2 separate regions of the Homo sapiens genome follow, and region 2 is linked to region 1. The links come from fine-mapping of genetic effects on gene expression. A gene starts in region 1. The other region holds a variant in brackets. All regions are shown on one strand. Distances are between the middles of the regions. Region 1 holds the start of CASK (calcium/calmodulin dependent serine protein kinase). Region 2 holds the start of LOC105373188 (a long non-coding RNA gene).

What was found. PIP is the estimated chance that this variant, and not a neighbour inherited with it, causes the effect.
Region 2: its variant is the best candidate, but not a certain one, in a credible set for the expression of CASK in whole blood (TOPMed, PIP 0.63).

The regions. Positions count from the first base shown.
Region 1 is chrX:41,921,917-41,926,304 of GRCh38, reverse strand. CASK (calcium/calmodulin dependent serine protein kinase) reads left to right here and starts at 2,751. Exons shown (of 27, transcript NM_001367721.1): 1 at 2,751-3,375. The coding sequence starts at 3,317. RefSeq lists silencers at 2,397-2,976, 3,247-3,296.
Region 2 is chrX:42,918,342-42,922,729 of GRCh38, reverse strand. LOC105373188 (a long non-coding RNA gene) reads right to left here and starts at 2,351. Exons shown (of 5, transcript XR_949037.3): 1 at 2,144-2,351. RefSeq lists an enhancer at 304-1,242. The variant A/C (reference allele first, on the strand shown) is at 2,005.

The sequences.
Region 1 (4,388 bases):
GACAAATATCCGTGTCCCCAGCTTCCCTTGCAGGTAAGTGTTGCTGCCTGTGACTCTGTCCTGGCCCGTGAGATGAGAAAAAGATATTTTCTTTCCCTAATAGATGAGAGACGGAGCAGAAAGGCCTCTCCTGTCCTTACTGCCCTCCTGCTTCCTCCCTTTAATGTCTGAAATTGCAGCAGCCATCTCATAATGATGAGGCAACAAGCCTGAGGATGAGATGCTAACATTACAAGAATGGCAGAGTGGAACGAATAAACCTAGGTCACTGATGACGCACTTGAATAGCTGATCAATGTTAATAACCACACATCTCCTTGCTACATGGAAAAGAGCACCCCGCCCCCTTGCATTTGTTTAAACCACTGTTAGTTGAATATTCAGTTGCTAACATCTGAACACAATCTAATAGATGCACTTACTTTAACATTTTCTTTGTGGAAACGAAAACAGAACCAAATTATTGACACCTGACTCACTAATACATGGGCTTATTTGTTGGAACAGTATTGGATTTTTGGAAGACACCCAGAGAAAAATTAATTTAAAAGGTTTGCTTATTTTAGTCCCCGAAGCAGAGAGGATCTACTTCTAACCATCATACATGGTACAACTTCTGAGGGATGTGTATTGCAGAGAATTTCTATATGACTAAATATTACACTGGGAACTGGGAGATCTAAGTACAGATCAGGAGAAAAAGTCCTCAGCTTTGTGCTGATTGGCAGACCTCAAACCACTCAAAGCTTGTGACCAGGGAGTGCCAAGAGCTGATTAAATTAGGCTTATCGCTGTGGCAAGGGGGCTGCATGTGTTAGTTTAATTAATCAGAGCCCACCTCTCCAGTAAAGATGGTTACAATCTCACCTCAAGTCCAGAGCTGCTACCCCATGGTGGGGGAGAGGGGTGGGATGGCTTTTGGGAGAGCAACCACCACATTCTTCCATCTGTAAGTGAGGGAGTCTCTTTCCAGATCCAAACCAACTGTGATCCTATGAGCAGAGCACTTACTTATTTTTGCAATCGTCTGTCTCTCTTTTTTTCACCTGCACTTTCTTTTCTGTTTTACTTTATGATTGTCCTTTTCTACCTCTGAGCATAGGTCCCTGTAGAAGACAACAAACCCCAAAATGAAGTCGACAAGGCTTGGTATAGCTCAGTCTTGGGCTGGGGAAAAGAAGTGAAGCTGACAAGGTGACTTGAGAGGGTCCCTGTGCACTTCAGGGCAGAATGGAGTGACGCCTTATTCATTAGACATGAGCTGGACATGCCAACTTGTGGTGAGTAACTCTTGGACCCTTAAAGGAGGCAATGTTTCTCAAGTTCTGAAGCCCCCGTCTCTAGAGAATGCACAAGCTCTTTGAGAAAGGAGGAAAACCGTGTGCAATTACACTTGTCCTCTGATCTGCATTTAAAAAAAAAAAAAAGGTTTAGTACCCAAATCCTTAGCAGGCAAATCTCTCAGCCTTTTGAGGGAGTGGTCAAGGGTTTGCACGAAACGTTTCTGAAGAGAAAATAGGCTGTGAGTCTCCACATCACCCCCTCCACTTTGGTATTAATAAATACTTTTTTTAAAAAAAATACTGCACTGAGAAATTTACCAGACGATTTCTGGAAACTGACTTATGAACTAATTGGGCACTTTTGCTGTGCGGAGGAACAAAGACACTATTGGTCTTCAACTGAGGCATATACCTGTCTGATGGCGCTGGCTCATTCCGCACATGCTCAGTTGAACAGAAATCTTCATATTGAATGCAACCTAGCACAGCGGCAACACCCAGAACCTCACTCCCTGGCTGCTCCTGTGCCTGCACTCCCTCTAGTTGCATTCTGTTCCTGACAAGTCTAACATTTATAGGGAGTATAGAGAGCAGAGTAGGTCCTGGGAGTTTGAGGACAATATACAAATGAGCTTAAAGTCACGGTTTGTCCCTGCCTTCCTAGCTTCTCTCTAGGTTGGTCTCTAGTGAGGGTAGGCGCTGGATAGATATTTGTTGAGTTTGGGGCAGAACGTGGGAGAAGCTGTCTCTATAGATGACCGTTTGCTGTCGCACACCTTCCTAGGCAGTTTTTGTTTAGTCCTTTTCTTGGACGACCTCCCCTTACCCCCAGCCCTCATCTTCATTAAGGAATGACAGGGTAGCACTAAAAGCATCCGCTGCCAAGCACGGATTCAGTGACAACCTCTCTCCACCTCTCTTTTAGCTTTCTCATTCATTAGCACCCTTTCCCTGCCTCTTTTCCCAGCAAAAAACTGGGAAAGGCTCCCTGCGATTACAAAAGAAGGAAAGGGGAGCGGCCAGAGTTTCGTGCCTCTTGCCGGACAACGAGCGTGCAGCCGTGGACCTTTTGTCTCCAGCCCCTTTCGCGGCTTGGTCGCGGCTAGGCGCGGAGGCGACGACCCCAACCAGCCCCGCCTCGGCAGCTGCAGCCGGCGCGCCCCACTCAACCCCCCGCGCCCTCTAGAATCCCGGTGCCCGCCCGTTCGCCGTGACGCGGCCGGCGCCCCGCGCATGCGCCGCTCGGCCCGCTCCCCTTTCCCTGGGCCACCGCCTCCCGACCGGTTGGAGTGGGCGGAGCCTGTGGTTCTGGAAGCCGCGCCGCCGACGGGGGAGGAGGGCGTGTCTGCGCGAGGCGGGTGAGCGGGGCTGGCGAGCCGGTCGGCTGCTGAGGCGTAGGGGCGGAGCAGAAGGCGGCGGCCGCGGCTCCCGCCCGCACAGAGCGCCGGTCCCGCGAAGCCCCCTCCCACTCCCGGGCGGGCGGTGGCGGCTGCGGGAGGAGGAGAAAGAGGAGGGAGCGTCTCTGCCGCCGCCTCCTGGTCCCCAGCGCCGATCCGCCGCCGCCGCCACCTCCCTCCGCGGCGATCCTCGCTCCATGGTCCTGCCGCGGCCCCCTCTGTAGCCCGAGCTGCTCCGCGACGCGACGGAGCCGGCCTCGGACAGAGGGAGCGGTCGCGGCCTCGCGGCCCGCGCGGGCTGACGAGCGGAGAGCGCGACGCCGCGCGGTCCCCGAGGATCCGCACGCCGGGCAGCGCGGCCCGAGCAGCGCGAGAAGCAGCGGGCGGGCGGGCGGCGCCGGGCCCGGGCCGCCCTCGCTCCCGCGCCCCGGCCCCGCCGCCCGCGCCGGGGCGGTCGCCTGCAGAGGAAGGCGCCGCAGTCTCTGGGCCTCGCGGCCCCACTCGAGCGTCCTCGGCACCGAGGGCTCGCGGGTCCTGAGGGGAGGAGGCGATCCCGGGGCTGGGCACTGAGCTCTTGGGCGCCCCCACCCCCGTTTTCGAAGCCCTCCACGCTGCGGCCGCTATCCCCTCCGGACCATGGCCGACGACGACGTGCTGTTCGAGGATGTGTACGAGCTGTGCGAGGTGATCGGAAAGTGAGTCTCCACGCGAGGGAGCGGGAGTGTGGAAAAATGCATTTCAGTGATGCCCCGGTCTTCCCGCACCCGCTCGGGGCCTGCCCCCTGCCCTCCCTCCTTCCCCTCTTCCCCTCTCGTCCTTCTCATCCTGGAGTATTTATAGACGTGTACCTGGAGCTCCTGCCAGGCGGGGGCCTGGGGGTTCTCAGCGGTCCATTGAGGCCACCGAGCCGAGGTTGGCCACCCCGTAAGGCGTGGGGCCGGCTGCCTGCATTTTATCTGACGGTTGCACAGGGACGTGGCACAGCCGATTTTATAGTTGCTTCAGTTGGGGTTATTGTTACCTTGCATGTACCATAGACCATTTTTGAAACAGAGCAGCTTGCATTTCCTTTGCTTGTGTGGTGAGAGAGTCCAGGGTTTTAATTGTGGGGTGTGTGTCTATTGTGCGGGATATTAGACAGATGCCTTTGTGTACACCCCATGCTCGGATTGGAGGGGGTCATTTAAGACGGGGTGCTTTCAGTTTCAGCAAATTCCCTCCTGGTGTACACGAACGTGGAAAGAGTTGGGGGCATTCGAATTTTTAATGCCTTGTTATGCAATGACTGTTCAATCAGTGCTCGAGACTCCCCTCGACTGTTGTTGGGATGGTGGTTAGCGTGGTAGAGCCGTCTGCTTTGAGTCACCGGGCTGGTCTAGAATATAGAACTGACAGTCCAAATGCTCATCCTTTCATCTGTGTTGTATAATTACGCTGGGGAAAAGCAGGGAATCAGATTAATCACAGTGCTGATTGAGAATTAAATCTGCAGTTCCTCATCTAATTGTCCATTCCTTAAATCTATTTTGAATAGTTTCCTTTTCATTCTTGTCAAACAGTACTCCAAGTGCACAATCCTGCTAATTTGCTTGTGAAGGAAATGCTGGCAATCTGAAGTTGATTTCCTAACACAGCGTGTATTCTGCGGCTTTAGAAGTTGAGGAGATAAGATTTAAGAGCAAATTTTTGCTTAATAAGGATCGCTAGA
Region 2 (4,388 bases), 1.0 Mb before region 1:
TCTTTGTTAAATTTATTTCATAGGATTCTGAATTCCTTCTCTGTGTTATCTTGAATATTGTTGAGTTTCTTCAAACCAGCTATTTTGAATTCTTTGTCTGAAAAGTCACATATCTGTCTCTCTATGATTGATCCCTGGTCCCTTATATAGTTTATTTTTTCGGTCATGTTTCCCGGATGGTCTTGATGCTTGTGTATGTTCATTGGTGTCTCAGCATTGAAGAGTGAGATATTTATTTTAGTCTTTGCAGTCGGGACTTGCTTTTACCCATCCTTCTTGGGAAGGTTTTCCAGGTATTCGAAGGGACTTAGGTGTTGTGATCTAACTTACTGGTTGCTGTAGCCATATCTGCATTAGGGGGCATCCCAAGTCCAGTAACGCTGTGGCTCTTGCAGACTGGTAGAGATACTGCCTTGGTGGTCTTGAATAAGATCTGGAAGGATTCTCTGTTTCACCATGGAGAGATTCTCGTTGTCTTCCCTTACTTTTTCTCTTCCCTTACTTTCTCCCAAATCTCTCTCTCTCCATGATGAGTTGCCTGGAGCTGGGGGAGGGGTGACACAAGGACCCCTGTGGCCACCACCAGTGGGACTGTGCTGGGTGAGTCCTGAAGCCAGCACAGCACTGGGTCTCACCCAAGGCCCATGGTAACCACTGCCTGGCTATTGCCAATGTTCACTGAAGGCCCTAGGGCCCTATAATCAACAGGTGGAAAAGCTGTCCAAGCTTGTGTCCTTCTCTTCAGGGTGGTGAGTTCCTCACAGTCTCAGTTGGATCCAGAGATGCCACCAAGGAGCCAGGGCCTGGGGTTGGAAACGTTAGGAATCTACCTGGTGCTCTGTTCTACTGTATCTGAGCTGGCACCCAAGCCACAAGACAAAATCCTTCCCACTCTTCCCTTCCCTTCCACAAATAGAGGAATTTCTCCCTATGGCCACGGTTACCTCAGGCCCAGATTGTACACTGTCTGCTACTGCTGATGTTCATTCAAGGCACAAGGGCTCTTCAGTCAGCTTGTGCTGACTGCTGCCTGGTCTGGGACTCTACTTTCAGAGCAGTGGGCTCCCCTCTGGCCAAGGGCAGGTTCAGATGCTATACAAGAGCCAAGGCCTGGAATCAGGGGCCCCAGGAGGCTGCTTGTTGCTCTACCCCACTGTGGCTGAGCTGGTACCTAAGCTACAAGACAAAATCCCCTTACTCTTCTATCTCCTTTTCTCAAGCAGAAGGAGTCCCTCTCCATTGCCACCACAACTAGAAATGTGCTGGGTCACACTTAAAGCCAACACATCTCTGAGTCTCACCCAAGGTCCACAGCGAGTATTCCCTGGGTGCCACTGCTGCTGATTATTCAGGGCCCAAGGGCTCTTCAGTCAGCAAACAATTAATTCTTTCAGGACTGAGCCCTTCCCTTCAAGGCAGCAGGTTCCCTTCTGGCCCACAGTGCATCTAGAAATGTCTTCAGGGTGCCAGGGCCTGAAATGGGGGTCTTGGGACTCTGCCTGGTGCCCTATCCTACTGTGGCTGATCTGGTATCCAAGTTGCAAGAATAAGTCCCCTCTACTCTTTCCTCTCCTCTCTTCAAATGGAGGGAAGGAGTCTCTCCCAGAGCTGTGAGCCGCACTGCCTGGGGTTGGGGGAGGGGTAGCTCAAGCACTCCCCTGGCCACCCCGGTTGGTGTCTCACTGGGTGGTGTGCCCCACAAGTCCACTGGCTCTGAGCCCAGCATAACACCAGCATTTGTATAGAAATTGCAACTCTTGTGGTTTAGACTGCATTTCAAGTTTATTTAGAACCTCAGAGCACTTTAACCTGGAGCAGCAAGGCTTGCCAGAACTCAGGTTCCAACTGCTGGGATGGGCAATTCCTCTCTGGCTAGGGCTTGTCTAAACATGCCCTCTATGAGCACTGGATGAGTTTTTCCCAGATTGCTTTCCACTGTGACAGGGCAGCACTGAGTTCCAATGAAAAGTCCCACGATCACTGTGCTCTCCCTCCCCCCAGTAC[A/C]CAGATTTTCTCTTCATGCCACACAGCTACTGCCAGGGTATGGGGGAGGGTTGGCGTTGGCAATTCAAGACTGCCTTTCTTACCCTCTTCAGTGACTTTCAGTGATAGGAAGTTAAAACCAGGTACTGTGATCACTCACCTGATTTTTGGTTCTTATGAAGGTGCTTTTTTGTGTGCATAGTTGTTCAAGTTGGTGTTCCTGTGGGGAGGATGATCAGTAGGGTTTCTCTTCAGCCATCTTGCTCCACTTTCCTCCAGAGTAGATATGACACGGTGGTTAAGGAGAAAGGAGTGTCAAGGATGACTCTTCAATTTTGATTTGTATAGTCCCATACATGAGGAGACAAATGAAAGAGGATTAAATTTGGGGTATAGAGTTTGGAGATTATCAGTGCTGTGTTGAACTTGTTGAATTTGAGATACCTTTGAGCCATTGAAATGAAGAAGTTGAGCAGAGAGTTGGATATGGAGGCCTAGGACTCAAAAAGCAAATCCGGGCAAGAAGCCCTAGTAAGATCAGCTTTATCCCTTGGCCAGAACACTATCACTCTCAACCAGATTCAAGACAGGTTAACAAGCTTAACAAGCACCTGTTTCTAGTGGACTCCTCCTCCACTATAAAATAGGCCCACGGGGCTCAGAGTGCTCCAGGAAAGACAATATTTACAACACAACTCAACATTGTGAAGGCCATTGATATCAACTGTCACTCTCAATAGAACTGATGCCTCATCTTCTTCTAAGAGACCATATTAAGACTAATTCTTTTTCCTCCCTATTCCATCAACCTCCCTCCCATGTGTGTTTTCATCAGTTACTACCAGAAGTCCAAATCTCCCAGGTCATCCATCATCATCTAGACTTTCTCTCCATCCACCTCCATGCAGGTGCAAGTCTGATATCATCTCTCACATTTCCCTGATCCTCAGTTCCACATCCTCTGAAATTCAAAGGCCTGCCATCAGCACAATCCCCTGTTTCCTTTACTTTATCTCTTAATGTTCCCTTCACCTTCTTGTTTTAATTATAATCTGGCTGTTTCCTAAGGACAATAATGGTTTTTTTCTGCATCCCTCTTATATGCTACTTATAGGACCTCAAGGTAAGGTAGGTGTCCTTGCAACTTCCAGATCATTTTACCTTCATTCTCCACCAAAAGCCACAGGTCTTTGAATTGCATTGCTCCAGACATCACAATTCCTAGTTTATTATTTTAGCAGTCATTGTATACTACACTCCTAGTTACTCAGCCTCATTCATATTGGAAAATATCCTTAATCTGAACTCAAACATCATGACCACAGTCATCTATGTTTCTAGCTCATAATTCTATTACCCTCATTTCAACTATTCTTAAATCCTATCAGAATTCCTAACCACTGTCTAAGTGGGCCTTCATCACTGTTGCCTAGCAAATGTGACTTCTCTCGCTGGTAAAGTTGCTGTGCTACTTGTTGAAAAGTCTATTTCCTGTCTTCTTTTCTCTTTTCCAATCCTTCATCATATTCATACTCTATTTTACTGTCATCAAATCTACAACCTCTTCTACCAGAACTGATATTCTCTCTATGCCACCTGTAAAAAGTAAGGAATAATAATAATGACTAAACTTACACTGTAAACCTCCTCCTCTGTACCACCTGATATTTTTGCTCTGGAAATTATCCCCTCTTTAGAAGATCACCCCCATTATCACAGCTTTTTCTTTCTGTCTTCATTTTGTTCTTTATAAAGAAGCTGCGGTGATTTTTTTTAAAAAAACTATAAATCAGTTTACTTCACTCCCCTGTTCAAAATTGTCTAGTGGTTTCCTATCACATTTAGATAACAATCGAAATTATGACCGTGACCCAAAAAAGTCTGCCTATCTTTCTGACCCCATTTTTTACCCCTCCCCACTTTGCCCAGTCTACTCCCATCTTCTTGCAATCAGTTGAACATGAACAATTCAAATTCATTCTTGTCTCAGGGCCTTTCTATTTGTTGTACTTTCTTTCTGGAATGCTAGTCCTCTATATACTCTCATTCTTACTTCTTCTCTTCAATTAGATCTCTGTTCAAATATCACCTTCTCAGACAGACATTCTCTGAACATCCTATTTAAAAGAGCCACCACCCACCTGTCCTACATCACGTTACTTTCTATTCCATTACCTTGCTTGACAGTATTCATAAAACTTTCACTAGCAGGAACTATTTTATTTGTTTGTTTGCTTTTTTCCTGGTTTTGTCTATCTCTTCCCTAGAATATCATCCCCACTGGGGCTGAAACTTTATATTTTGTTCACACTTGCATTCTAAGAGTCTCAGTGGTATCAGCATGTAGGCACTCATAAACATATTAGTTTGTGAATAAATACATTAATGAAAGAGTCAATAAATAA